7 linked regions of the Homo sapiens genome follow. The protein of the gene in region 3 purifies or fractionates together with the protein of the main gene of each other region. This does not show direct contact. Each region holds a gene or a part of one and is shown on either strand. Other genes may lie near its edges. The genes, in order: ZCCHC9, PHF10, BHLHA15, ZNF638, PRDM10, LBR and YBX3.

Evidence for each region.
Region 1: the proteins of BHLHA15 (region 3) and ZCCHC9 purify together in Homo sapiens (co-immunoprecipitation; 2 studies listed by BioGRID and IntAct, with this or other methods). This does not show direct contact.
Region 2: the proteins of BHLHA15 (region 3) and PHF10 purify together in Homo sapiens (affinity purification with mass spectrometry; 2 studies listed by BioGRID and IntAct, with this or other methods). This does not show direct contact.
Region 4: the proteins of BHLHA15 (region 3) and ZNF638 purify together in Homo sapiens (affinity purification with mass spectrometry; 2 studies listed by BioGRID and IntAct, with this or other methods). This does not show direct contact.
Region 5: the proteins of BHLHA15 (region 3) and PRDM10 purify together in Homo sapiens (affinity purification with mass spectrometry; 2 studies listed by BioGRID and IntAct, with this or other methods). This does not show direct contact.
Region 6: the proteins of BHLHA15 (region 3) and LBR purify together in Homo sapiens (affinity purification with mass spectrometry; 2 studies listed by BioGRID and IntAct, with this or other methods). This does not show direct contact.
Region 7: the proteins of BHLHA15 (region 3) and YBX3 purify together in Homo sapiens (affinity purification with mass spectrometry; 2 studies listed by BioGRID and IntAct, with this or other methods). This does not show direct contact.

The regions. Positions count from the first base shown.
Region 1 is NC_000005.10:81,300,259-81,304,581, reverse strand, and holds the start of ZCCHC9 (zinc finger CCHC domain-containing protein 9), read right to left. Parts: upstream 2,996-4,323; 5' UTR 2,884-2,995; exon of another isoform or gene 2,527-2,883; intron 1,373-2,526; exon of another isoform or gene 379-1,372; intron 1-378. UniProt on the Homo sapiens protein: May down-regulate transcription mediated by NF-kappa-B and the serum response element.
Region 2 is NC_000006.12:169,714,190-169,718,060, reverse strand, and holds part of PHF10 (PHD finger protein 10), read left to right. Parts: intron 1-154; coding exon 155-238; intron 239-1,972; coding exon 1,973-2,106; intron 2,107-2,203; coding exon 2,204-2,353; intron 2,354-3,218; coding exon 3,219-3,328; intron 3,329-3,871. UniProt on the Homo sapiens protein: Involved in transcription activity regulation by chromatin remodeling. Belongs to the neural progenitors-specific chromatin remodeling complex (npBAF complex) and is required for the proliferation of neural progenitors.
Region 3 is NC_000007.14:98,209,889-98,214,238, reverse strand, and holds the start of BHLHA15 (class A basic helix-loop-helix protein 15), read right to left. Parts: upstream 2,801-4,350; 5' UTR 2,741-2,800; intron 1,984-2,740; 5' UTR 1,930-1,983; coding exon 1,360-1,929; 3' UTR 1-1,359. UniProt on the Homo sapiens protein: Plays a role in controlling the transcriptional activity of MYOD1, ensuring that expanding myoblast populations remain undifferentiated. Repression may occur through muscle-specific E-box occupancy by homodimers.
Region 4 is NC_000002.12:71,352,109-71,355,979, reverse strand, and holds part of ZNF638 (zinc finger protein 638), read right to left. Parts: intron 262-3,871; coding exon 200-261; intron 1-199.
Region 5 is NC_000011.10:129,999,718-130,004,388, forward strand, and holds the start of PRDM10 (PR domain zinc finger protein 10), read right to left. Parts: upstream 3,119-4,671; 5' UTR 3,005-3,118; exon of another isoform or gene 2,907-3,004; intron 1-2,906.
Region 6 is NC_000001.11:225,417,840-225,421,710, forward strand, and holds part of LBR (delta(14)-sterol reductase LBR), read right to left. Parts: intron 1,960-3,871; coding exon 1,876-1,959; intron 1,614-1,875; coding exon 1,424-1,613; intron 342-1,423; coding exon 145-341; intron 1-144. UniProt on the Homo sapiens protein: Catalyzes the reduction of the C14-unsaturated bond of lanosterol, as part of the metabolic pathway leading to cholesterol biosynthesis.
Region 7 is NC_000012.12:10,702,732-10,706,602, forward strand, and holds part of YBX3 (Y-box-binding protein 3), read right to left. Parts: intron 1,418-3,871; coding exon 1,320-1,417; intron 1-1,319. UniProt on the Homo sapiens protein: Binds to the GM-CSF promoter. Seems to act as a repressor. Also binds to full-length mRNA and to short RNA sequences containing the consensus site 5'-UCCAUCA-3'. May have a role in translation repression.

The sequences.
Region 1 (4,323 bases), on a different chromosome or scaffold from region 3:
TTAATGCTATAATATGCTGCATAGACATGCTTCTAACATAAATCTACCACTTACCAGAAAAGCTGCCACACCAGTTAAAAAAGGTGTGCTTAAAATTGAAAAACTATCTTAAGAAACCAAATTATTTCATAAAATATAAATCAGATAGTAATACAATGAATGCAATTATTCCTCCCACATTCTGCAGTTTTCCCGGCTGTTTATTTTCCTATCTCCAAGTCCCACAGCTACTTTCTCCCAATCTTCTTGCTTCGTCTGCCATTTCAATGCAACAATTTGCATAGCAGATTACTAAGTATACAGAAATCATGTCCTTTAATATGAAGTTTGTTGAAATTTCCTGGCAAAGTTATAAGTAAAACATATAAAAGTGTTTACCATCACAGGATGATCCCGGGCTTCCTCTTACTAATCAAGGTATAAGCTACTTCCAGCCCAGTGATTTCACATCATCTTCAATTCTATTTAAATTATGACTTGAATCATAAGATATATTTCACACCAAAATCTGTATCTTGTTTTTATACTCTTAATACATATGCTTTAATATTCAGAAATAACTTTTCATTTTAGAGCACATACATAAAGAAGTAATTTATCCTAACACTAATGATTTGGCTCCAACATAAAATGGAAAAAAGTTTTGGTCACTTACATACTACCTAGTGATTTGGAGGATATTTTTTTCCTGCAATGAATGAGAACATTCAGCCATAATCAAAGATTCATCAGCTAGTCACATGCTACATAACATTTAGGTCAACAGCGACTGCACACATGATACTGGTCTCAGATGATTATAATGGAGCTGAAAAATTCCTATTGACTTTGTAGCCCTCATAACTTGTAGTGTAACACATTACTCATGTCTGTGGTAATGCTGGTGTAAACAAACCTGGGATGCCAGTCATATACAAGCATAATGCTTACAATGATGTACTGTACATAATACTAGACAATTATAAGTATTCCAGAAAAAAGCAGTTATTATAGGAGATGACAGCTCCATTCATGTTACTGCCCCTGAAAACCTTCCAGTAGGACAAGATGTGGAGGAAGAAAAGAGTGATATTGATGCTCCTGACCCGGTGTAGGCACAATGTGTGTGTCTTAGTTTATAACAACAAAAAAAATTTTTACAGGAAAAAGCTATAGAATAATGTAAGGGAATAAAGAAAATATTTTTATATAGCTATACAACACATTAGCATTTTAAGCTAAGTGTTATTACAAAAGAGTGGGCCGGGTATGGTGGCTCACGCCTGTAATCCCAGCACTTTGGGAGGCCAAGGCCAGGTGGATCACAAGGTCAGGATATCGAGACCATCCTGGCCAACATGGTCAAACCCCATCTCTACTAAAAATACAAAAATTAGCTGGGCGTGGTGGCGCACTCTTGTAGTCCCAGCTACAGGCGCGCACCACCTGGGAAGCTGAGGCAGGAGAATCGCTTGAACTCAAGAGGTGGACGTTGCAGTGAGCTGAGATTGCGCCACTGCACTCCAGCCTGGGTGACAAGAGCAAAACTCTGTCTCAAAAATGAGAGACAGAGAGAATAAACTCCGTCTCAAAAAAAAAAAAAAAAGGTCAAGGAGTTAAAATTAATTTAAAAGTTTATAAAGTTAAAAAAGCACAGTAAGCTAAGGTTATTACCTTATTTTTAATAAACTTAGACTAAGCATACCGCATTTATAAAGTCTACAGTAGTGTACAGTAATACCCTAAATAATATCGTAGGCCTTCACACTCACATACCACTCACTGACTCACTTAATAGCTACCGACAGCCCTGCAAGCTCCATGCGTAAGTGCCCTATTCAGCTGTACCATGTTTTCTTTTACACTATATTTTTACAGTATCTTTTCTGTGTTTAGATACACACCATCCTTTTACAACTGCCTACAGTATTTAGTAGTTATACTGTACAGGTCTGTAGACTAGGAGTAACAGGCTATCCCATACGGCCCAGCTGTGTAGGTTTGTGCAAGTACACTATGATGTTCACACAACCACGAAACGGCCCAACCATTTCTCATAACTATACCAGTTCTTAAGGGGAGCATGGCTGTATTAAGCCACCACCTTTTTTGTTGTTGTTGTGGTCGTTGTTGAGACGGAGTCTCACTCTGTAGCCCAACCTGGAGTGCAGTGGGCGATCTTGGCTCACTGCAACCTCTGCCGCCAGGGCTCAAGCGATTCTCGGGCCTCAGCCTCCCGAATAGCTGGGATTACAGGCGCGTGCCACCACGCCCAGCTAATTTTTTGTATTTTAGTAGAGAAGGGGTTTCACCATGTTGCCCAGGGTGGTCTCGAACTCCTGAGCTCAGGAGATCTGCCCGCCTCGACCTCCCAAAGTGCTGGGATTACAGGCGTGAGCCACCGCGCCCGGCCTAAATTATCACCTTTTAAGACCAGCATCCCTGGCAACCCCCCAAGTCTCAGCTCCTAGTAACAGAAAGACCCCTTCCACAGAAGCTGAAGGGTGGACCCAATGAATTGGTGTGAGAAACTCCATGCCACTTTACCAGCGCACTCTTCGCTGAAGTTTATGCGACTGTCATAGTGGGGACCGAAGCTGTTCAAAAGGAAGTAGATTATCCTTCCCCTACGTACGTGGGAAGGGGGAGGCTCTGGGTTATCAAGAGGGTGAAGTGGGAGAGCCAAGCGGCCCACCCACAGGCGGATTCCAGGGCGGCTGGACGCACAGCCCCCAGCAGCCGGAGCCCAACAGCTGAGGTCGCCGCCCCTAGACAGCCCGCGCTCCAGCCAGCTCAGGGACCCAGCGGCTAAGCCTTCTGTCCTCCCAGCTTCCCACGCAAGTTCCGCCAGGCCAGAGGGAACGAACGACGAGACCCTGCAGCTTTGGTGGCTGAGAACCTCACCTCACCGCGCTACCGCGCAGCTTCTTACCGCGCACGAATCCCCCAGAGCAGCCGAGTTGGCGAGCCGGGGAAGACCGCCCTCCTGCGGTATTGGAGACCGGAAGCACATAGTGCCCGAGAGCGCGTCACTTCCGGCGTCACAGACGGTCTTTACAAGCGACTCGTGGGCGTCAATACTGGGCTGAGTTTGTGGCGCGCTTAGTGATGGGATGGCCCTGTGCAGGACGCCGACACGAAAAGATGAAGAGTTCAATCCGTGCTGTCTGAACTCACAGTGTAGCAGGCGAGATAGACGGGAAGATCGGTAGGGTGGGAGATGCCGGAAAGGCTTCCCGTGAGACTGGATAAGAAATCAAAAATCTGGTGAAATTGCCGGCAAGAGGGAGTTAAGGACATTCCAGGCAGAGGCAAGGTAAAGGCGCGGTGGGAGTGGGTCACTGTGATAAAAGTCTGAAAAGGACATTTGGGGGCTCTCTTGGGTGAGAGGCAGTGCCTCATGTCCCCCCTTCAGTGCTCGTTGAGCATTCAATTAAAATGTTAACACTTTGTAGCCAAACAAGTTCTCTTTTTAAGAGGAAAACCCTGGATTTCCAAACGGCTCATTTTCTGTAGCTTCTTGCAAATGGATACCACCACCAGCTGTGCCTAGTGAAAAAATGCAATTTACCAGGACCACTACTCTCAACAGTTTGCTCAATCCATTTAACCTTTTGAATATTTGTCCACTTCTTTTTATCTCTGTTGGCACCTCCTCCCTTGTCCCATATTGTACCTGTAGTTCTACAACTGGTCTGGGGATTCATTCTGCCCCAACTCCCTGAAATCCATTTTCCGTGTCGTAGGAACGGAACTTTTGAAAATGTAAATCATTACATTTAAAGCAGTACTGCTGTACTGCTTTAAACTCTCCCTTCGCTTCCCATTGTTTTAGGATGAAATTCGAACTCCTTATGAAGTCCCTGCCTACTTCCCTAGCCTCACCTTGCTCAGTCTCTCCTTTGAGCTCCGTGCATAGGATCATTTTTTCAATTTCTCAAATGCCGTGTGTACCTTGCCATCTCCAGGCCTTTACATTTGCTAGTCTCTTTGTATGGTACTCCTTTTCTTCTTCCAGTTACTTTCTACTCACCCTTCAAGGCTTTAAGTATTTTATTCTCAAGAAAGCCTTCCAGCCCCCTACCCCCATACTAGACCAATCCCCTACTGTGTGCTCACGGCAGTCTATACTTTCTTATGACACGGTTCACATTTGTAATTACACAATAATTGTGTAAGTTTATTGTATCCTCATTGCCTGGTACATCCTTGGTGCTCACTGCGTATTTGTTTTTTTGTTTTGTTTTGTTTTGTTTTTTGAGAAGGAGTTTGGCTCTTGTCGCCCAGGCTGGAGTGCAATGGCGCGATCTCGGCTCACTGCAACCTCTGCGTCCCGGGTTCAAG
Region 2 (3,871 bases), on a different chromosome or scaffold from region 3:
TCTTGAATTTATAAATTTTTTTGTAGCCCCTTTAATAATATTTGGAATATGTAATATGAATACTTTAAAAAGTCAAGGTTTTTAAGCTTTTAAAAGTTTTACAAGTGCATAAGGTTTTGCTGTTTTTAATAGTCTTTTGATCTTTTTTTTGGAGATTTAGAGCGACGAGATTTGTCTCACAAGGAGAAACTCTACCTGAGAGAGCTAAATGTCATTACTGAAACTCAGTGCACTCTAGGTAAGAATAGCTTTTTAATGTGAATTTTTCAAGCTGAACATTTATGAGATAATACTAGATAAGTATCTTATTTCCTAAAATATTTTACAAAATTAATAAAATAAATTGAACTATTTAAATGCTACATTATTTACTTCATTTTTGATTATTGTTAAAATACACAGGAGAATGAAGCTTGAACACACATGTGGTTCCTGACTTATGATGGTTCAGCTTCATGATGGTGTGAAAGCAATGCATATTCAGTAGAAACCATACTTCAAGTGTCTATACAACCATTATTCTTTTCACTTGCAGTATAATATGTAACAAGTCACATGACATATTCAACACTTTATATTAAAATTTGTGTTAGCTGATTTTGCCCAGCTGTAGGCTAATGTAAGTTTTCTGAGCATGTTTAAGTTAGGCTAGGGTAAGCAAAGATGTTTGGTAGGCTAGATGTATTAAATGCTTTTACTTTTTAGGATAGTTTCAACTTAGGATGGGTTTATCATATGTAACCCCATTGCAAGTCAAGGATCAACCTCTATTCTATAACAGAGTATAATTGTCTAATTTTTCTCTTTTTTTTAACACAGAGTCTCTCTCTGTTGTCCAGGCTGGCATGCAGTGGCGCGATCTTAGCTCACTGCAACCTCCATCTCCCGGGTTCAAGGAATTCTCCCTCAGCCTACCGAGTAGCTGGTACTACAGGCGCATGTCATCACAGCCATCTAATTTTTGTATTTTTATTAGAGACGGGGTTTTACCATGTTGGCCAGGCTGGTCTCCAACTTCTGACCTTGTGATCCACCCACCTTGGTCTCCCAAAGTGCTGGGATTACAGGCATGAGCCACCATGCCCAGCCCTTGTCTAATAATTTTTACAGAGTTTTCAGAGTGTTTGTATTTTTTGTACAAAGCTTGTACAATATATTTTTTTAAGTTGCAGGTTCTTTGCTAAGTGCATGGTGTGTGCGTGTGGTCCCAGCTACTTGGGAGGCTGAGGGAGGAGGATCACTGGAACACAGGACTTTGGGGTTGTAGTGTGCTGTGATCATGTCTGTGAATAGCCACTGCACTCCAGCCTGGGCAAGATGGCGAGACCACATCTCTAAAATGCAAAAAGGCAAATTTTCTTCAATTTTTAGTTCTGTATAATTATGTCCGTGCTTTATTTGTAATCTTTTTTTCACAAACATTTTAATGCAACATGGCTACTTTTTATATAAATTCTTGGGAATGCATTTTAGCAATTGGTGAAATCTGATACTGTGAGTTTTGAAAATTGTCTCCATGGTGTGTGTGTGTGTGCTGATGTTTTTGGTGAAATTTTAATTGATTGTAATATTTCTTGTGTATGGAATTTGAAGACTGGGAACTATAATATGTTGAATTTTTTTTTATTCATCTAGTATTCTGTAGTACTTGTTAGTAGTTAGTGCATTTCATTATTTAACAGTTGTTTCCAACTAAAGGGATATATGTTCAAAGCACATAGAATCTTAAAAATAAACTTGTTTGGTTGAAAAATTGATATATTTGCCTTTTGCAAGATAATCTTTTGATTGCTCGAGTTTATATTGTGAATATTAAGTTTAATTATTTTCAAATGTACTAAGATATTTTGCTTTGGCTATTGGAAAACCATTACAACGTGGAGCGGTTTGAAGAATTAAATTTTGAAGAGTGCTTTTGTTCACTTATCCTTAAAAGAGCTTCTTTATTTTTTTATTTTTTGGTCTAAAATAGGCTTAACAGCATTGCGCAGTGATGAAGTGATTGATTTAATGATAAAAGAATATCCAGCCAAACATGCTGAGTATTCTGTTATTCTACAAGAAAAAGAACGTCAACGAATTACAGACCATTATAAAGAGTATTCCGTAAGTAATTGAGGTGACTGGCATTTTTTATTTGGGTTGGGGAAAATGACATTTTAGAAAGTTATATGTGACTTCCAACTGTATTTTTTTTTTCCAGCAAATGCAACAACAGAATACTCAGAAAGTTGAAGCCAGTAAAGTGCCTGAGTATATTAAGAAAGCTGCCAAAAAAGCAGCAGAATTTAATAGCAACTTAAACCGGGAACGCATGGAAGAAAGAAGAGCTTATTTTGACTTGCAGACACATGTAGGATAACTTAAATTTAGTACCCCCTGAACTTAGTTTATTACTTGTTATTGCAGAGTGCCCATCACCCCCTTTATCGTTATTTTTTGTACCACCTATGTGTGTGTGTTTTTTTTGTTTGTTTGTTTGTTTTGTTTTGTTTTTTGTGGCAGAGTCTGTGTAGCCCAGGATGGAGTGCAGTGGCATGATCTCGGCTCACTGCAACCTCCGCCTCCCGGGTTCAGGCGATGCTTCTGCCTCAGCCTCCCCATTAGCTGGGATTACAGGCGCCTGCCACCACACCCAGCTAATTTTTTGTATTTTTAGTAGAGATGGTGTTTTACCATGTTGGCCATGCTGACACCTGCGTGTTCTTTTTTTCCTCAGAAGTTGAGATGTTATTTTTAATGGTGTGCTTAATAATACTCAATTTACATTTTTTTGTGAGATGTCTTTTGCTTTACGGTTAATAATTCTAAATGAGACTAATAATAGCTACATATCATACTTGCTGTGCGTCCCAAGAGTTTTTAAGAGATTTGCATGTTAATTCTCATAGTAACCATGTGAGGTTGGAACTAGGATTACTTCCATTTCATAAAGAAATTGAGCTACAGAGAGGTCGTATAAGCTACCCAGATCACTCTGCTGTTAAGTAGTGAGCAAGAGATCCACTGCCATTCCTCAGGAGAATAGGCCTTTAAAACAATAATATATAGAACTGAAAGCACCAACTGTCCTCTTAGGTTATAGCTCCTGATATCTCCTAAAATTTTAGCTTTTCGAGGGGGAAGTGGGCGTGCAGTGGTGAGCACGTGGGGACTCTTCCTAAAGCCTTGATTCTTAGCATGGAATCAGTTTTGTGTTTCTCTTTATGTTAACGTAGGTTATCCAGGTACCTCAAGGGAAGTACAAAGTTTTGCCAACAGAGCGAACAAAGGTCAGTTCTTACCCAGTGGCTCTCATCCCCGGACAGTTCCAGGAATATTATAAGAGGTATTTAGTAGTTTTAGTTACAGTTGGTATCGGCTATTGGTAAGGGGTTTCAGAGCCTTTTGTACTTGCCTCCTAACAATTTTGGGGTCTATAGATATCACCGTAAGATATCGTATAGGATTTGTGTTGCTATTCTTCTCTGGTTCTGTGGTAAACAATACCCTGTAGTCAGAATTTGAATATATGCTGGTGAAGTCTAGATGCCTCTGTCTCTGCCCATTCTGTTTGGGTTTGTTAGAGACAGATGCTGGGGGTTCTGTAGCACCTCACTGCTCAGGGTATGTTCCGTGGTCCAAAGCACTGTTATTGCTCAGAAGCTTGTTGGAAATGCAGAATCTCAGGCCCAACTCTAGACCTATGACTCAGAGTCTGCATTTTAACAGATGTCTGTGTGATTCATGTGCAGGTTAGAGTTTGAGAAACACTGACTTTTACTGCAGAGAAGATGAGAGAAGGAGCGGAGAGGGGCAGGCATGGGCAACTGGGTGCCCCAGCCACATTGCTGACCTGGCCTGGCTGCTGCTCCAATATGGACCCTAAATG
Region 3 (4,350 bases):
GGTGTTACCTGTGTCCTTACGTGGCTAGGCCTGACCCCAAGTGCCACAACCCCCAACTTGGGGAGGGCAGGGCCACCTGGTGGGGACGGGCCAGCCAGAGCCCTTGGTCTCAGCTGTGGCAGCCACATCCCTGGCCCGGCTTGGCCCTGAGGGCCTTTGGGACATCTCTGGGCAGAGGCATGAGGGAGGGGAGAGTCCAGTAGCCAAGTCCGGCAGAGCCAGTGGGGCAGGAACGCCCAGCAGAAGGAAGCTGGGCTTGGGGCAGCAGAGACGTGCCAAGCCACCAGGCCTGGCCATGAGGATGAAGCACCTGGGCGGGGGAAGGGACGTACCTGCCACCCCAAGGCTCCACCAGGCAGAGAGACCCAACGGGCTGCCAACTCAAACCAGAACCCAAGCACGTCATAATGTCCTACAGACAGCATGGTGCCAATTATATGATAACCCCACATCAGTGAGAATAAGTAACGGCGGTGGCAGGGGCTGGGTGGGGGGCACACTCGCTCCCCACACAGGCCAGGGCTGAGCAGGAGGCCTCAGAGCTGCTCTTGGGGAGCAACCCAGGGCCTTGGGGCTTCTCTCCCATGCCCAGAAGGGCTGCACCAGGAACACCCAGCCCTGTCTCCTGCTCCAGTTCCACAGCACCCCTCACACCCTGCCCCAGACCCTCCACAACCAGGCACAGCCTGGAGTCAACACATCCAGGAGCCCCAACTTGGGAGGAGGGAGGAAGAGACTCCAGCCCCTCCCCACCATTCAACTTTTAAGGATGAATTGGAGGTCATCTGATTAGAGTTTCTGGCAGCTCCAATCATCTCTGATTGGCCCCACTCCCCGAGCAGCCTTAGGCTCTGCCGGGCTTGTCCCGGGCCTCAGTTTACCCCAAATGAGGATGCTGAGCCCAGGCCCCATGTAGCCCTATAACAAAGGTTGGAGAGGGGGTCCTTGCTGGGGCTTTGGCCTTGGAAAACCTGCAGGTAAACCTTTTCCTGGGATCTCCCCTTGCCCAGAAGTCAGGGTGAAGAGACGTTAGTTCCAAGGCTAAGGAGGCCTTTCAACTCGGGCTGAGACTGCCTGGCTCAATGAAAAATCAGGATCCAACTGGGCCCTACCTAGAGGTTTGGGCCTCACGCCGCTGTCCAGGGCCACAGCCGCAACTAGGCCACTCGCTGGTCCCCAGCGGGGCAGGAAAAATTGCTCCAGGGAAGTGGCTGAATGTTCGGGGGAAAATGGAACCGCTGAGGCCGTGTCCTTGTGGGGTGTCACCGCCCATCTGGGGCTCGTGGCTTGGAGGGACTGGGGCTGGGAGGAGCAGGCCAGGCAGCTGCGGCCACCGCCACCCCCACCCAGGACTGGGCGCTAGGTGCCCTCTCGGAAGCTGTGGATCTGCGTGGAGTACCTCTGCAGGTGGCCCTGGGGCTGGGCCTCCGTGGCCCCCAACGCACCCCCAGCCACCTGCTGCTGCTGCTGGTAGTGCTGGTAGAGCTTGGGGCCCGGCCCCTCCAGGCCTGGGAGGCGGCTGCTGGACATGGTCAGGATGGTGGCCGTCAGCGATTTGATGTAGTTCTTGGCCAGCGTGAGCGTCTCGATCTTGGAGAGCTTCTTGTCCGCGCGCACGTGGGGGATGACTTCACGCAGGGCCTGGAAGGCGTTATTTAGCTTGTGCATCCGCTGCCGCTCCCTCTCGTTGCTCTCCAGCCGCCGCTGGATGCTGCTGTCACGACGGCCACCGGGCCCGGAGGGTCCTGGCCGCCTGCGCCTGCCCTCGCCCGGAGCCCTTGCTGCGGCCCGGGCCGGCCGGCTCCGCAGACCCTTGGCCGGCTCTGGCCCCGGGTTCGGCAGGGACCCGTCGGGCGTCCCCTCCCCGGGGGTGGCCTCTGTGTCCTGCACCGGGGCCCGGCGCCGTGGGGGCCGGTTCTTGGTCTTCATGGCCCTGGACTGGCTGTCCTAGGAGGTGGCGGCAGGAAGGTGAGGCCCTTGGAGCTGAAATCCAGAACACAGGACACTCTGTGGTCACCCCACATGGGCAGGGGACCCGCTGGGGTGCCGTCCCTGGCAGCCTCCTCCTTGCTGACAGCAATGGTACCAGGGGCAGGGGTTGGCGCTCTGCGACTGGAGGTCCTTCTGTTCACACGCTTAGCCCTGGGCTGACCCCACACACACCCACGCCCTTGCTTTACCTCAAACAGACCTCTGGAATCTGTCCCTGTCCCTGCGTCCCCCTTCCCCCAGGATGACTCATCCTGACCCCTAGATCTTCCTCTGGCTCATGCCCCTCACTGCCCCCAGAGTGCCTCCTGAGCTCGGTGACCTTTGACACTTTGCCTAGAATGCGTCCCCCACCCTAGCTTAGGGGGCGCCTCTGCCGGAGGCGGCACTGACTTCATCCCGTGGGCGGGCAGTGACTCCAGCCACCAGGCTCTCACTGTCCTGCCCCGCTGGACGTGACACGTGCAGGGACAGCACTGGGGCCAGAACCGCTGCGGACATGGGACAGCACTGGGGCCAGAACCGCTGCGGACATGGGGCAGCCGTGGAGGTCAGAGGTCGGCAATGGCCAGGGCCTGGCGGCAGCCCCCAATCCCACCACGTGGATGGGCCCCGTGGAGCCTCCAGACAGACCAGAAGTCCCCCACCCGGGTTTCCCCACAGCCCCCACAACCCCCACAACCCCACCGCCAGGTCCTGCCCCTGGGTCCCCTCCCCGCGGCCCCACCCGAGTTCCCAGCTCCCGGGTTACCTGGGGATCCGCGGCCACACGCGCCGAGGCTGCCCACGGGGGACAAGGACACGTCGCTTTAGCCGCCCCGGGAGGGGCCGCGGACGCATGCAAATGAGCCCTCGGGGCGGGGCCGGGGCGGGGCCGGGGTCCGGGTGTCCCGGCGGGCGCTGGGCAGCAGTGGCGGCACCTGCGGGCGGGCGGGCGGGAGGCCGGCGCCTGGGGCTCCCGGACCAGGTGGCCGCGCAGCCCCGCCCCCAGCTTCCGCCCCGCCCCCAAGATAGAAAACCTCCCCCGCCCGCCTCTCCCCATCCTCCCCCTACTGCCCCCCACCCTCGTCCCCCAAGACAGCCACCCCCGCCCGCCTCTCCCCACCATCCCCCGACAGCCCCCGACCCTCGTTCCCCCAGACAGCCTCCCCCACACGCTTCTCCCCATCCTCCCCCGACAGCCCCCCAACCGCCCCGAGATAGCTTCCCCCCATTCGTCTCTCCCCATTCTCCCGCTACAGCCCCCCCAAGACAGCCTGCGTCCCCACCTCCCCTACTCCCGTCCCCCGACAGCCTCCCCACAACCTGCTTTTCCCCATCCTCCCCCTCAATTTCCACTCGCGCCTTTCCCACCCGCCTACCCCATATCCGTGCCCGAGACAGCCTCCCCCCGCCCGCTTTCCCCGACCCTCCCCCTGACACAGCACCCCCGCATCCATGCCTCCCGCGATCCTCCTTGCCCGGCCTCTCCACTCGTGGCGGGGCCCGGGCCCATTCCGCCAATGGGAAACAGGTCTCTGGGAGCCGCCGGAAGGAGGGGCAGCCCCGATTCAGGCTCAGCACACAGATCCCAAGTCCCAGGAGCACTCCGGGACGAGCCGCTCCGCGAAAACGCGGGCATCTCCCAGGGGATCCCCCGCCCCGCCGCCCGGGATGTTTAGGGGAACCTGGGGCTCCTACGGGCTGGGGGCGGAGCCCGAGTTGGGGTGGGGGTGGGGGGCTCCTTGGGCAGGTGTGCAGTCCTTGGGAACGCCTGTTTTGTTTGTTTGTTTGTTTTTGAGACGGAGTTTCGCTCTTGCTGCCCAGGCTGGCGTGCAATGGAGCGAGATGATCTCGGCTCACCGCAACCTCCGCCTCCCGGGTTCAAGCGATTCTCCTGCCTCAGCCTCCCGAGTAGCTGGGATTACAGGCATGCACCACCACGCCCAGCTAATTTTTGTATTTTTAGTAGAGACGGGGTTTCTCCACGTTGGCCAGGCTGGTCTTCAACTCCTGACCTCAAGTGATCCACCCGCCTCGGCATCCCAAAGTGCTGGGATTACATGCGTGAGCCACCACGCCCAGCCAAAGCAGCATCTTGCTCAGGGACTATTCGGGGCTGCTAGGGGTGCGGTGACTGCACGCTGCTGGGGGTGCGGTGAGTGTCACGCTGGCTGGCAGGCCTGGGCTCCACACTCATGGGTCTCGCCGCTCTGTCTCAGTACCTCTGGGTGGGAACTCAGAGGGGCCATAGTGGGGCGGGGGGCGGGCACAGAAAGGCTAGCTTGGAGCCAAGGTTAGTTAGTTCTTCTCTTGGCCTAAAGCTCATTTGAGGCTGGGCCAAATGAGGTCCTTGGAAATGAAAATGCTTCCGAAATTCAT
Region 4 (3,871 bases), on a different chromosome or scaffold from region 3:
GTGTCAAAGGATATACTGAATTCTACCATTTTGGAAAAATATTAAATATACTTCCAGAAAACTAATATTTTTAAAAGACAATAGCTTTCCAAAAATATTTTTCTCCAAAGTATTATACTAAAGGTATTTAACAGTCACATCTGAACATTAACTATTTTGTAAATATGCTATCTATAATAAAGGAAAAATATATTCTTACTGTTGACGTAACTGTCGACAGCTCTCAATATGAGTAGATGTATTTTGATGCTGAATCCAATCCTATTGTAAAAGGAGAAAAGTGTTGAAATTAGAATATTCCTCATGTTGACTAATGAATTAGGCTTTTAAAAAAGACAAATAATATTTTGTTCAAAAATTAAACAAACGTACTCATAAATAGCATTTGGCTGCTCAGTAAAATTTTCACAAACAAAAATTAAAGGCCTTGAAACAAATGCACTTAATACCATACCTCACTGATCCCATTTGAAAATATTTTAGTACAGAAAACATTTTCAAAATCATACCCGTGGATGCTCATTTTGAAATCAATATATAAACTTGGAGAAAATAAAAGCATGGATCAGAAAAAACTTACTGCAAATATAAAAACAACACACCAGAAAACACCAAAAAATCTATAAGTAAAACGGTATCTGTGAAACAGCATCTTCAAAATACAATATTTCAATGACAAATACCTCTAAAATTCACGCTAACAACATCAACAATCAAAAAATGCCGCCGGGCGCAGTGGCTCACGCCTGTAATCCCAGCACTTTGGGAGGCCAAGGAGGGCGGATCACGAGTTCAGGAGATCGACACTACTGTGAAACCCTGTCTCTACTAAAAATACAAAAAATTAGCCAGGCGTTGTGGCGGGCACCTGTAGCCCCAGCGACTCAGGAGGCTGACGCAGGAGAATGGCGTGAACCCGGGAGGCGGAGCTTGCAGTGAGCCGAGATTGCGCCACTGCACTCCAGCCTGGGCGACAGAGCGAGACTCTGTCTCCAAAAAAATAAAAATAAAAATAAAAATAAAATAAAAATGCTACCTGATAGACCAGTACCATTCCATACAAGGTACTCACTATACTGGCAAATAAGATTAGGAAAAACATGGGGAAAAATGCTACTGATCAAATCTATTTTCAAAATTTAAAAGTAACAACATTTCAAAGATACAATATCCCTTACATATAGAGCTTTGAGCTTTACAATTAACGAAATGCTTCTTTTTTTTTTTTCTTTTCTTTTTTTTTTGAGACAGTTTCACTCTTGCTGCCTAGGCTGGAGTGCAATGAGGCGATCTCGGATCACTGCACTCTCCACCTCCTAGGTTCAAGTGATTCTCCTGCCTCAGCCTCCCTAGTAGCTGGAATTAACAGGCATGTGCCACCAAGCCTGGTGAATTTTTGTATTTTTAATAGAGACAGGGTTTCACCATGTTTGTCAGGCTGGTCTCGAACTCCTGACCTCAGGTGATCCACCTGCCTCGGCCTCCCAAAAGTGTTAGGATTACAGGCGTGAGCCACCATGCCCAGCCCAAAATGCTTTCTTATACATTACTTCATTTACAAATAAATCTGTCCTAAAATTACAATGTGTACCCATAAATAACTCTGGAAGATACATCTGGTTAAAAAAAAAAAAAAGCCAATACAGTTTACAAAGATACAGTTTCCAAGGTGAAACAATTAGTTAAAAGCAATATGTATGTTACTCAATGTTTTACTGTTCCTCCAGCATTTGGAAAGGCAGAAAACTTACTAAATAACTTCGTATTTCAACACTTTGCTTAAGGAAAATGTTATTATTTGTTTCCATTTGAAATACATTTTAGTTTAGGTCATTAGAAGTTTCCACAGTTAAAACCACGGTTGACAATAATTTTGGATTCTGCCTTGGCAAGAACTATCTGAAAGAAGGTACACTGATTTGCAATGCTCAGCATCAATTTAAACTCAGCAACAAGGTATGACAAATCCTAAACTATTTCATTAAGCCATGGAACTGATTGTGGACTACAAAAAAGAAATGTTTGTACATCCTGTTTAATAATACAAATAGAAAGCTAGAAGAAGAGTCTCTAGTAGTACTAAAACCCATATTTTTAATATTAATTGGACACTGTTTACATCAAACAGACACACTGGTGCAGGCAGTGGGTTGGGCATGATTTATTTGAACCATAAAGTGTTTTATCTGAATACGTTGCCAACATTTAATAATCCAGAGATTTTTACCCGCAAGTCCAGATTTCCAGCTTTTCTTGAAAAAATAGGAAGATACAGTAATACAGGATATCATTCTTACAGCAACTATCACCTGAAGATGATGGCTGCCCTATTTAAGATATACTCTTCTCAGTTCAACACACATACACACATTCTTAGGCTTGCTTCACAAATTGACATTACTTGCTTTAAGCTCAGTAAACACACCCATCCCACCCCAACTTCTAGACTCTCTAGTAATAGTTTCCACATTATAGTCCAAAAGCAGCACTGCCTCCCCAGAGAAAAAGTGATAATTACCTACTAGCAGGAGATGCTGCAAGGACTGCACAGAATTAGGCAGGCTCAGAATGAAACTGAAAATATATAACTACTCGTATCAGGGCTCACTCACTATTCTCAACAATTTTTTATTGTCGGTACTTTCTCAAACTGAATTATTTCAGTCATTATGACACAGCTCCTAAACCAAGGGAAGTTTCTCCTTTAAAATCTGAACCCCAATTTAACAAGCAAATACATTTCACGTTCTCAAAGTACATCTTCACAGCTATAGTTTCAAAGACTCGAAGGTGGGGAATATACATATTGTCAGATTTACTCAATAGGAAAAAGTTTACAATTGGTAATTTACATTTATTGGCTTCATATTTATGTCATATATACACACACAGGAACACTTACGAGGCTGCAAAATATATCACAGAAACGAGAGGCAGTGTGTACCATCGAAATCCATCTTCACAAATCCCTATCATTTGGCCACTTAGTAGTGAAAAATTCATTACTTAGATGAGCCCCATTCTGTTGTGCTGTTAAAAGGTGTGTCTGTTTTTTAATGGCAATCTATCTAGGTGAGCTCTAATGATGACTAAATGATTTCCTTTCCTCTCAAATTTTTACTTTTATCCTATTAACCCAGGTTTTTACCATCTTATACTTGAACAATTAAAGAAGCTTCCAAGTGGAAGTCCTACTCCACATCATCTCATTTCTATTTACCCTGCATACTTCAGTCAGATCTCCCTAAAATATACTTCCAACATGTCACTTCACTTATCAACAAACTTATTTAGCTTTCTAATGCCTCTCACCTCAAGTCTAAACTCCTAGGCTAGCTCTTCAAAGCCTTTCGTACTTATTTCTAATACGCTCATCACTCTTTCCCAACTGCCTCCTACCACAATGAAATGTAGTCTTCTCTCCGGACCTCTGCCTCTCTGTATGTTGTTGCCGCCAACCCTCCTCTTCTTTTTTTTTTTTTTTATTTTTTTTATTTTTTTTGAGATGGAGTCTCGCTCTGTCACCCAGGCTGGAGTGCAGCGGCGCGATCTCGGCTCACTGCAACCTTCTGCCTCCTGGGTTCAAGCGATTCTCTGCCTCAGCCTCCTGAGTAGCTGGAATTACAGGTGCGCATGACCACACCCGGCTAATTCTTGTATTTTTAGTAGAGACAGGATTTCACCATGTCAGTAAGGGTGGTCTTGAACTCCTGACCTCAGGTGATCCACCTGTCTCGGCCTCCCAAAGTGCTGGGATTACAGGCAGTGAGCCACTGTGCCCGGCCCCCTCCTCCTCTTTATACAGGCATATCTAAAGCCTCAATTCAAGACCCATCTTCAACCTACTCCATGAAGTCTTCTCTCCCACATC
Region 5 (4,671 bases), on a different chromosome or scaffold from region 3:
TATGTTTGTTATCCAGAAGCCTATCCCTATCAATTAGATTACGCTTTTAAAAAGTTACAAGAAATCAAAATATTATAATTCTTTTAGTTCGGCGGACTTCATGATGCCCCCTTCAAATAATGGAAGTAATGAAAGTGCCCAATCATCAGCAAAGTCTTTAGACACCTATTTACGTCTTGTTTTAAAAACTAGATATTAAACCAAGATTATGTCGTTTGTACAAATATTTTATACACACACAAAACCAACTTGAAATACACCAAAGTATCAGCAAAGATTATCTCTGGGTAATTATGGGTTTTGTTTTTTTTCACTCGCTTCTAAATTTTTTTTTTTTTTTTTTGAGACGGAGTTTCGCTCTTGTTGCCCAGGCTGGAGTGCAATGGCCCGATCTCAGCTCACTGTAAACTCTGCCTCCCGGGTTCAAGTGATTCTCCTGCCTCAGCCTCCCGAGTAGTTGGGATTACAGGCGCCTGCCATCATGTCCGTCCAATTTTTGTATTTTTAGTAGAGACAGGCTTTCACCATGTTGGCCAGGCTAGTCTCGAACTCCTGACCTCAGGTGATCTGCCCGCCTCGCCTCCCAAAGTGCTGGGATTACAGGCATGAGCCACAGCGCCCGGCTTAAATTTTATGTTTTCTCCAATGATCACGCATTATTCTTAAAACTAGAAGGAAAAACAAAACAGGCAAGCAGAAACTTAGGTAGTGCCAATCAATTTGGGATTATATTGAGTTGTGCTATCCTTTATACCTCCATAACCTCTAAGTAAAAACCATTCAGAGCCCTTGAAGACAGGAACCTTGCTTTTTCTAAAATATATACTCAATTACATTGACATACAATATATGATTAATATGTGGTGGAGCATGCTACAAAATATTAGAAAAACTAAAAATGAATTCTTTGAAAAAGCAAAACAATTTTGCCTTGCAAAACGAGGAACAGCATAGCAGAGTGGGAGCTTACGGGGTAGAAGGCACAAGACATTTGTCTTGATCCAAAACAAACAAAAATGTAATCCTTTCACTAAACGTCCCTGTTCACTTTAAAATGGTTCATTCTGTGTCAACTTCACCTCAATTTATTGTAAAAGTAAACCTAAAGGCCGAGCGCGGGGGCCCATGCCTGCAATCCCAGCACTTAGGGATGCTGCGGCGGTAGGATTGCTTGAGCTCAGCAGTTCGTAACCATCCTGGGCAAAATGATGAAACCCCGTTTCTACAAAAAGTAGAAAAATTAGCCAGGCGTGGTGGTGCACGCCTGTAGTCCCAGCTACTAGGGAGGCTGAAGCAGGAGGATCCCTTGAGCCCGGGAGGTCGAGTCGGCAGTGAGCCAAGATCGCGCCACTGCACTCTAGCCTGGGCAACCAGAGACCCTGTCTCCTAAATAAACCTAGCAAAGTTCCTTTCTAAATACCCCATATTGAATAAACACTGTTTAAACGCTGCTTTGCCCCCAACCAATCCTAATTTTAAAAAAAAATCTTGTTTTCTCTATTCTAGAACAACAAATAAGTACTGCTCATCAAAGTGGAAGCTATTGTGATGCTGGAATGGTAGGAAGATACAAAAAAAATACAATGTAATAATACACCTTCTTGCCTTACAGCGATGGAGGAGTGATAGAAACAAAGAGAACAGGTCAGAAAAAGAGGCCACAAAACAGTCATGAGTGATTCTGCTGTTTTTAATAAAGGTTAAGTACTGCTAAGTTTAGAGAATTTGGGGTGACGAGACAGGCAAGGTTTCAACAGGCAAAGCAGCAGAATTAGGGCACAGGGCAGAGCTGGGTGGGTCTCATCACACATCTAATCCTCGATGACAGCACAAAGCCACCTCTCCTTGTGCTTAAGTGTACACGCACATTGATTGAAAATGCACTAAAATCCAACTCATCCACCAAGCAAGGCTAAAGGCGCGCACACAAATTCAACAGCGCTGCGTTCGCGTGGCTGGAGGGCAGACGGGGAATATTCCATTTTACTTAGTAGAGTATCAACACCTAGCTGCAGGGTTAAACCTGCTTAACAAAAGCTGGCGAGGGGCTGGAGAGGTGCACACCATCAGCCCTCTCCCGAGCGCCGACCGGCCTCGCCCTGCCTCTGCGCTGCACCCTGGGTGCAGGCGGACTGGGGCAGGGCCGCGACCCCGGCCTCGGCCTCCGCCTCCGCCCGGCCAGCCCCGACGCGGTGCCACGGGACAGACCCGCAGGGGCCACCCCACACCCCTGCGGGCCGGCCCCCCGCCCCGGTCCCGGACGCTAGCTTGGGAAGGCAGGCCGGGGGCCCAGCCATCGATGGCAAGTGGGCGGCGCGGCCTCCGCAGACAAAGCTGGGCGCCCCATCGAACAGGACCCTCCGCCCCACGCGCCCGCAACCGGCCAGCCCCGGAGCCCTGCCCGCACTGCCACCCCCAGCCCGGCGCCCGGCCCCCAGCCCCCGGTGCTCGGCTCCCGGCCGGCGGAGACCTGCCCGCCGCGCCCGGAGCGCCCGCGCAACCGCCGCCGCCGGAGCGCGCAGGCCGCCCAACCGCCGTCCCGGCCCAACCAACGCGGGCAGGGGAGGAGAGGTGCGCGCGGCCGGCGGAGCGTGCGAGCCACTCGGGGGTCGCAGGGGGAGGCTGCGCGCGGCGAAGGCAGGGGCGACGAGACGCCGAGGCCGGCGCTGAACGCGGCGCCAGGAGGGCCTGCTGGAGGGGGCCTTGCCCTCTTCCCCTTGGAAGGTGCAGATGGTTTGACCCCCCACCCCGAGTGAGGTGCCTCGTCCCAGCCCCGGCTGGACTGTACCATCGGGCGGTGCCGCCGGGATTTCTCCCCCCCACCACCACCATCAATTCCCCCCCCACCCGGGTCCGCGGTCGGTTGGCCCCGGCCGGGCTCTGAGACGCGGAAAGAGCTGGGCGCCATTTTGGGTGGGACTAAGCAAAGACGAAACACCCTCCCAGTCTATGGGGTAGTCTGGACCCTGGCTTATCTGGTTCCCTTAATCCTTTAGGTACTTACACGACGTTGGGTGAGGGGAGCTGGAAGATCAGCGGGTCCCCGATCCTCTCTCCCTAGGGGTGATAGAAATCAACCCCCCCCGCCACCTCCAGGTGGTTCTTCCCGCCGCAGAGTGGGAGCAGCATAAAAGGCGGGGTCTTATTAGCATAATCTGCCTGGCAACCTGATCTCGACGTTATATGATTGGTTAAACTCTGTAAGCCCCATGCCGTGCCTAGAGACGAGAAACGCTGGGGCGAACTGACAGGCCCAGATTTAGGAGTCATGACGAAGATCCTGAGACGCTTATTCAGTCTGCAGAGAAGCCAAAAGGAGATTCACATAATGGCCCAATGACTGAAGGCCTCTTTATTTCGTGCTCTGCTGTTCGTGTAAAACCCAATCGCAGAGCGGGTCTCAGGCGGCGCTCGCCTGCGTTTCTACTCTCAGCCAATCAGAAAACCCGACTCTTCGCATTGGGGTCAAGCCCCCGCTGCGGCCCGCGTGCTAACGGGGAGGAAGCTTCCAGCTGTGCCTGGGTGTCTCGGGCGCCGAGGGCAGCCTGCGCCCGTGCTAAGCCCGCCTCCCGCGCGCCCGAGGGCCCGGTGTCCCGGAAGACGCGCGGGGGTGAGGCGGCCCTCGCGTCCGCCCGCCCCGCCACAGATTGCCTCCGAAGTGGCCTGGCCGTGGAGCGCCGGCGAAAACCGAACTCCCGCCCGGCTCCCGGAGTCGGGAGCCTGCCGGGGTCTCGCCCTCAGGACCCCCAGGGAGCGGCCGGGCGCCGCCTATCACCCTGACCCACCGCACCTTGAGAGCGCTTTCACTGCGCCTCTTTTTTCTCCTCTACCAATCTGGAAAGGAAGTGAGTGTCATTTCAGACATTGAGAAACATTATTCAACACTGGTTACCCAGTGACTCAGCTCACTCCTTAACCGCAGGCTTCCACATCCTGCTGTCCCTTAAAATTGCCTTCACAAAGGGCAGCCAAGAGCCCAGCTTTGGAGAGATACCCAGCTCCAACTACCCACTGGCAGGCAATACGCAGGGCAGCTAGATGGCAGAGAGACCTTGGACCTTCGGACCTTCGGGGAGCGGTTTTCCCTTCGGTGATATCTACCTTGCTATGTTCGTGATATCTACCTTGCTACGTTATTTTGAAGATTAAGTGAGCTCTTACTTTACCGAGTAAAGTGCTTTGCTTAGCACACTGTCTGGAACTTAAATGAGAAGTACTGACAATATAACTTACAAAAATCCTAAACTATTGCCTGAGAAAAAGAGGGAGACAGGACAGCTAAGCAAAAGACGAGAATAGAAAACACCCACAGCGTGAAAAACTGTAAAATTAACTCAATAGTATTCTCTTTACTGTTTTTTGTTTTGTTTTGTTGTTTTGTTTTTTGATACGGAGTCTCGCTCTGTTGCCCAGGCTGGAGTGCAGTGGTGAGATCTGGGCTCATTGCAACCTCTGCCTCCCGGGTTCAAGCGATTCTCCTGCCTCAGCCTCTCTAGTAGCTGAGATTACAGGCATGCACCACCACGCCCGGCTAATTTTTGTATTTTCAGTAGAGATGGGGTTTCCCCATGTTGGCCAGGCTGGTCTCAAACTCTAACGTCAAGTGATTCTCCCGCCTTGGCCTTCCAAATTGCTGGGATTACAGATGTGAGCCACTGCGTCTAGTCTACC
Region 6 (3,871 bases), on a different chromosome or scaffold from region 3:
GGGCAGCATGGCACAGGCCTGTGGTCCCAGCGACTCAGGAGGCTGCGGCAAGAGGATCACTTGATCCCAGAAATTGGAGACCCGCCTGGACAATATAGTGAGACCTCATCTTATTAAAACAAAACAGAATTACCATAAACGTACCTTTCCAATTGGCAGTAGGTAGAACAGGACTTGAATCAAAAACCACAGGAGGTAGACCCCAAATACTCTGGTTTCCCATAACTCATACAAAGCTGGCAAAGGAGGAGGGAAATTCAGAAGACTGGGATCTTTCTGTTTACACATCAACAGCAACAGGAAGAGGAACACAGGCAGGCCAAACATGATGAGAAACACACCTGCAAACAATTCATGAACATTCGAGGCTCAAATTTCAATCTGGTTTATTTATTTAAGAATCATGTTAGATTTGTTAAGATCAGAACTCGTTATCTGGCTAACTGTCTGAAACCAATTTCTAATGTACCATCAAAAACTCCCATCTCTACCTGTCACCTCTGGTGGCCTGGCAACCATGGGCATCAAAGTAGTAAAAAAAATAAATAAATAAAAATAAAAAAAAAAAGAAAGAGGTCCAACATTGAATAGCTACACCCACCTCAGAAACCAAGCTCTAAAACATTTGACCTCCAACCACTAAGGAGCGAATGTGTTGAAACTCCAGCAAACTGAAGATCAGAACATCTAAAAATTATCAGCCTAATCTTAACAAAAAACTTTATATTCCTCAGTTTCTAACAATTAAAATAGTGTCACGTTCATGTAATGTGTGCAGATTTTAAGTGATGCTGGACAGCATCTGTAACAGGCCAGCTAGCCAAAGGTTATAACAAAATACAAAGCAATTAAGCCATGCAGGATTTTGAGCCATTTAGACAAGAAGTCTTTTCTTTTACTAGCTCATAAAATTTCATCAGTTCCACCCACTTAGTAACTCCAAAACTCTGCACACTTCAGATCTTTGACCCTCACAATCAACCCGCCTAGCAGGTAGGGCAGCCTCCGGGATCCCATTTTATGCAGGCAGCTGAGGCCCACTGCTGGCCCCTGCCGCCTCAGGTCTGACTATTAGCAGAGCTCTCTGTCCCTGATAAGTAACCATCTATGCTATACAAACTCCCAGATCAACCTTCCTTTATCACTTCTTTGTACTTCTGTGCTCAAAACCTCTGAACAGACTGCTAAAAGTTTTAAACACAGCTACAATGGCATCCTTTCTACTCCATAATCCCTCAAAATGCTCCCACCTCAAGCCTTTGCACCCACTGTTCCTTCTCTGGAAGGCTCTTCCACAGGTTCCCACCAGGCTCATTACCTTGCCTGCCTCAGATGTCTTCAGAGAGGCCTTTCCAGTTCACCTTGTGGCAACCACCCCTAGCTCACCCCACCTGCCCTCTCTGGGCCCAGCTCTGAGGCCTACCAGGTACTCCTCCAAACTCCAAGTCCTTTGCCCGGATGGGGGTCACTTCAAAGGTTCTCACTGCCAGTTCTTTTGCAACGTATTTTTCTTCCTTAGAATCTATTTCTTTTAATTTGACTTCTTCTCTTCTTGGACGAAGGCTATACTGTGTTGCTATGTAACTGCTTTCTTGTGACAAACTGAATTTTTCCTAAATGAAAAATTTAAAAATTAAATATCTGCAGTGAACAATTACCATTAATGCTACTGCATTAACTATTTCAGCATCTCAATACAGCTATACACTAGTAAGAATAAATTTGTGAAATTATATTCAGTCTTAATTTAAGGACAGAATTTTAGAACAGGTTATAAAATATTACAATTTTCAATGTGCTTCTCAAGGGAGAGTCACTTTTAACCAAAAAAAAGAAAAAAAAAAACAACCAAGATGAAAGGGAACACTTTCCCACCTGTGTATTTTTATGAGGTGCGTCATTTCTCTCAATATGCTCAGGCTCCCCATTATATCTGCTGATGCTATTTCCAAATGGCTTCTAAATTGAAGAATATAAACATTTAATCAAAAGAACTGTAACTTATTAAAAAGAAACATGATGGTAAAAACTTACTGTTTTGGAATCAAGCAATAAAACAGATTTTTCACAGCCTTAATTCTGACGAATTTAACCCTCATTTTGTTAAAAATGAAAAGGAATAAAACTGACTAGAATTTCCCAGTCTCTGAAATATTGGATAGATTTCTACATAAAATCTTTCATCTGGCCAGGCACGGTGGCTCACACCTGTAATCCCAGCACTTTGGGAGGCCAAGGCGGGTGGATCACCTGAGGTCAGGAGTTCAAGACCAGCCTGGCCAACATGGTGAAACCCTGTCTCTACTAAAAATACAAAAAAATTAGCCACGCACGGTAGCGGGCACCTGTAATTCCAGCTACTTCGGAAGCTGAGGCAGGAAAATCTCTTGAACCCGGAGACGGAGGTTGCATTGAGCCAAGACCGCGCCATTGCACTCCAGCCTGGGCAACAAGAATGAAACTCCGCCTCAAAAAAAAAAAAAACAACTTTGATCTTTCACGTAATCAGACTGAATGTCATAATTTCATTGATAGATTTTAGGGGTATTTACTATGAAAGGCAGAGAAAGTAAAAATTGGTAAATTAGTTCATTAACTGGATAAAAAACAAAAGACATTCAAAAAGACATTCACTGCTCCAAAATAGCCCATAATGGAAAACTAAGAAATAGTGGGTACTTATGCAACACACAGTAGGCCCAAGGCACTACCAGGTAAGAGGCAAAGCTTCTGTGGTTCTTGTGACACCAGGACTGTAAGATTACACTGTAAAAATATAGCAGTCACTAAATATTAAAAATGAAAGGATAACAAAGTATCACACAGCATCTGTTCCTGGAGTCCCGGGGTGGTAAAGAGAGCCACTAATAGTTAAAATGTTCTAATTCAAAATATAAGTTAGAACAGTAAGTTGAAAATGTCTGACAGCCACATTCTCCAAAAAAAAAAAAAAAAATTATAATACTCAGAATGAGAAACTGAGCATTCATACACTGATACTACTATAAACTTTCTTGATGCAATCTGGCAATATGTATTAAAAGCCTCAAATCTGCACCATACAGCTGACCTAGCAGTTCCACTTGTAAGAATCCATCCTAAGGAAATAATCAGATGTTACATAAAAATACTTGTTTGTAATAGTGAAAATATGGAAGGAAAAACACTAAATGTCTATCATTGACAGAGCTGACTTTAACGATTAAGTTACATGTATACAATTTACCATATATCCATACTATAGAATACAACAACAAAAATGATGTAGAAAAATACACTCTGAAAGGTTATCCCAATATTTTAAAATGTCTTAAAGCTGACTACTGAGCAGTATGTATATAATCCAGTTTTTAAAGTTTATTAAAAGTCTGTTGCCGGGCGCAGTGGCTCACGCCTGTAATCCCAGCACTTTGGGAGGCCGAGGCGGGTGGATCACGAGGTCAGGAAATCGAGACCATCCTGGCTAACACGGTGAAACCCTGTCTCTACTAAAAATACAAAAAATCAGCCAGGCATGGTGGTGGGCGCCTGTAGTCCCAGCTACTCGGTAGGCTGAGGCAGGAGAATGGCGTGAACCCAGGAGGCGGAGCTTGCAGTGAGCTGAGATTGCGCCACTGCGCTCCAGCCTGGGTGACAGAGCAAGACTCTGTCTCAAAGTCTGTGTGCCTTCTATCCAGAAAAGAGGTTAACATTAAGTGAATAGAAGATTACTTTTATTCTTTTTACTTAACATACTTTGTCTTTGGTCTACTATCTAAAATACTATTTGTACAAGATCTACAGGCTCCATGCACCCTGATATTTCAAAGCTTACATCTTGAAAGTAATTCCACTAAAATCATCTTTGAATAGGTAAAGTGATAAAGTATAA
Region 7 (3,871 bases), on a different chromosome or scaffold from region 3:
ATTAAAAAAGAAAAGAAGAGTAGTCTGGTATCTGCCTTCCATGAACAGAATTTAGCAGAGACTAAGGGAATTAAACATGAGAAGAAACATTATTATGTGCCAGAGCCTGTGCTAGTCGGTTTTAAAATTAAATATTTAATTTGAATGGTAATTCTGTGGATGAGATTTATAACAAGAAAACCAAGAGGTTTACATGATAAAGTATACGGCTGAGCTATATAAAAGTGCTGCTTTTATAGGTTAAAAAAGGTCAAATATGACTTTCCAAGATCACATATCCAGGGACTGACAAAGCTGAGCCTCACACGCTACTGAATCCTTTTTGTTCCAGTAAGACATTTCTATGCCGTCTCTTTTATTTTCAAAGTCCCTAGTACTTAATCATTAGTGATTATGCCTAAAGCTGGAGGGAACCTTGTGAAGAAAAAGGATACGATCCTTTTACAATTATATTGGTGGAATCCTTTCCCAATATAATATACTTTTTATCCTTCAATAAAGCCATACTGACAAATTTCAAGGTAGCATAAACATCATTCAGGAAGAAGTTGTAGCTTTTCCACTTACCACAAAGGGTAAGATAAAAGAATGGGCAGGCTTATATTATAAAATGCTTCAAAGGGATCTTATGGAAGGAGTCTAGCCTAATTCAGTCTTCCAAAGGAATAAAGCACAAATAGAATAACCCAGCGTTCACTAATATTAACCTCAATGGTGGTAATAATATCTAATACATAGTGAGGCCTTTACTTTATCAGGTACCACACTAATTATCTTAGCTGCATTAGTACCTTTAATCCCCAACTATAGAATATCTCTTTGTTTTCAGACAGGGTCTCACTCTGTTGCGCAGGCTGGAATGCAGTCCAAGAACATACATCTAATGAACTGTAGAGTAGGAAGATAAATTCAGGCGATTTGATCATACCCTGATTTAACCCCTCTACTGGACTGCCTCAGTGATTAACAGTCACTATCCCAAATATCCTCTGACACTCAATTCTTCCTCCATCTGCAGCATTACCACAGAATTGCCCACCAATAATTTATCTGATTTATTTTGATAAAAATTAAGTATTAATTTACATCTTATTATAATTCCAGAATACAAAATGACGCTTTGGCGCAGAGATAACTAAAAATTCTAGTATTAAGTAGGTGGGAAATGTCACACCACCACCTGAAAACTCTGGCATGTAGTCAAAGCATTCACATCTTCTAGATATATAATAAATCCACAAAACGGAACCACACAGTCCTCATTCTACCATTGTGCACACAAGTCCTTTAACTGGCCATTAGTGGAAAATGCGACATACCTACGGTACCTTGGGCGGTAAGTTGGATTTCGATGAACCGGTCCCTGAAGTTGTGCTCCCTCTGGGACTCCATCCTTCATCTCTCCAATCTCACCAGCCTGGAGAGGCAATGAGAGCTGACAGTGAGTGTCACAGCACAGGGGATAAGATACAGTGCATACAGCTATGTTCAGAATTTTTTTTAGAAGTAAAAAACAAAATGCTTCATTACAAAATTAGGCACTCTCAGTTGCAACACAAACTATTTATGAGTAAATCTTCGTGAACGACTGAAAAGGAAGACAAACCTAGTCTGACTAGAATACTCATTTGCTTAGTCCCAGAGCACCTAACTTTATTTTCGCCTATCAATTTAACATTTTGAAATCGGATACATTTCATTCATCTCTTTAAATAAAATACTCTTTTATTTTTCTTTACAACAAACTTACTTTAAGCCAGTGGAATAAAATTAACTTATTGTACAACTTCCAGGGGAAAGAAAGAACAACTTAAAAAAACAAAAAAACCCACCAACAATGTCTGCAATTCTTGACCATACAGCCATAACTCAACTTTCTTTTCTTTTCTCAAAACATCCCTTCCTCCCCCTAAGAGCCAAATACTGTCCTTCATTATTTCATCAAGAAAGAGAAACAGTCAGAAGACAATTTCCACGTTCTCATTAGCAAATCTACCCAGCTCCCTGTATTTACATTAGAATTTTCTTCTCTCCCATTACCCTGGGTAAGTGGTCCAAGTTCATATCTGAAACCAACAGCCTCTCTATTCTCATCAACTAGACACAGCATGTTAACGCTATCCCTTCACTATGTTTTCACCTTTTCTATCATTTCCATCCAAGCATATATACCCAGTGAAATAGCACCCATCCTTTTCAATTTTTTAAAATTTTGAAATAAGCACAAAGTTACAGAAAAGTTAAATGTAATTCTCAGATCCCATTCAAGTTTCACCATTTATCCCAATGATGCCCTTTATAGCAAAAACACCGTTTAGAATTATGCACTAAAGTAAGTTATATCTTTTTGTTTGGAGCAGTTTTTTTTAATTTATTTATTTGAGATGGAGTCTCACTCTGTCGCCAGGCTGGAGTGCAGTGGCGCGATCTCAGCTCACTGCAACCTCTGCCTCCCTGGTTCAAGCGATTCTCCTGCCTCAGCCTCGCAAGTAGCTGGGACTACAGGCATGTGCCACCACTCCCAGCTAATGTTTTGTATTTTTAGTACAGACGGGGTTTCATCATGTTGGCCAGGATGGTCTCAATCTCTTGACCTCGTGATCTACCCACCTCAGACTTCCAAAGTGCTGGGATTACAGGCATGAGCCACCACGTTGGTTTTCATGACCCTGATACTTCTTTAAAGATTACAAACCAGTTATTTTGTAAAATATCCCTCAACTTGGGTTATTGGTGTTCACTAATGATTAGATATTGTTTTTGCATCCCCAGGGGGATGTCACAAAAGTGACACTGCATTCTCCTCACTGCATCCTGTCAGGTGGCATATAGTTTCAATTTGTGCCATTACTGATAATGTTCACTTTGATAAGTGGTTAAGGTGGTATCTGCCACCAGAGTCCTCCACTGTAAGTTGACTCTTTCCTTCTTTGTAATTAATGAGTACTTTGTGAGGAAGTACTTACAAAGTGCATAAATATACTATTCGTTATCAAATTTTTCAATATATTGGTTTATTTATTTATATTTGTATGGACTCATGGTTTTCTATTTTTTTCAATGAGTTGTAATCTGTTACTATCATTACTGGCCAATGGGAACCCCTTCAAGCTGGCTCATATCCTATTGATGTGTTTCCAACATTCTTTGAGTACTTCTTCGCTTTCTGGCACAACAAGATGTTCCAGGCTCATATTATACTTTCTCTGTCCCAGCTCTGAAATCAGCCATTTCTCCAAAGGGAATTCTTTTTGTTTGAGAATGTTATTTAAAAACAAAAAATTGGGGGACAGGTATGCTCAATGCTGTTACTAAGATATCACGGCTTTCAGGACCTTTCAGTAGACAGAACCATGGAACACACACACACAATGTTACACATATATGTGTGTCTATGTATGTGTGTATATATATATGTGGGTTTATGGCAAACACACGTGCCTACCTTGATCTGCCCATTTAATGGCTTTAGAAGTTGTTGGTGAGGTAACGGGTAAGGGAGAGACCAGGGGTAACTCTGCATTGTAAAAAGCAAATCAAATCAAGCAAAAATCTTGCTCTGATCCCTTATCTTCTTCCAGCTACTACCCCATTTCTTTACAGACATACATACTAAAGAAAAACCAAACACCATGACCACCACTACAGAAACCTCAATGGGGAATATGTCTCCTCTTCCCGCCCTTTGCTGTTTCTTAAGTTCATTCTATTTAAACTTTTGTCTTCACCAAACCACTGACCTCCAAGTTACCAAATCTAATAATCAATTCTCAGCTTAATCTCTACTTATCAACAAGCATTTAACACATTTCTTTCTTGAAATACATTCTCCTTGGCTGCTCCTTCTCACTGTCCTTTGCTAGACAATCCT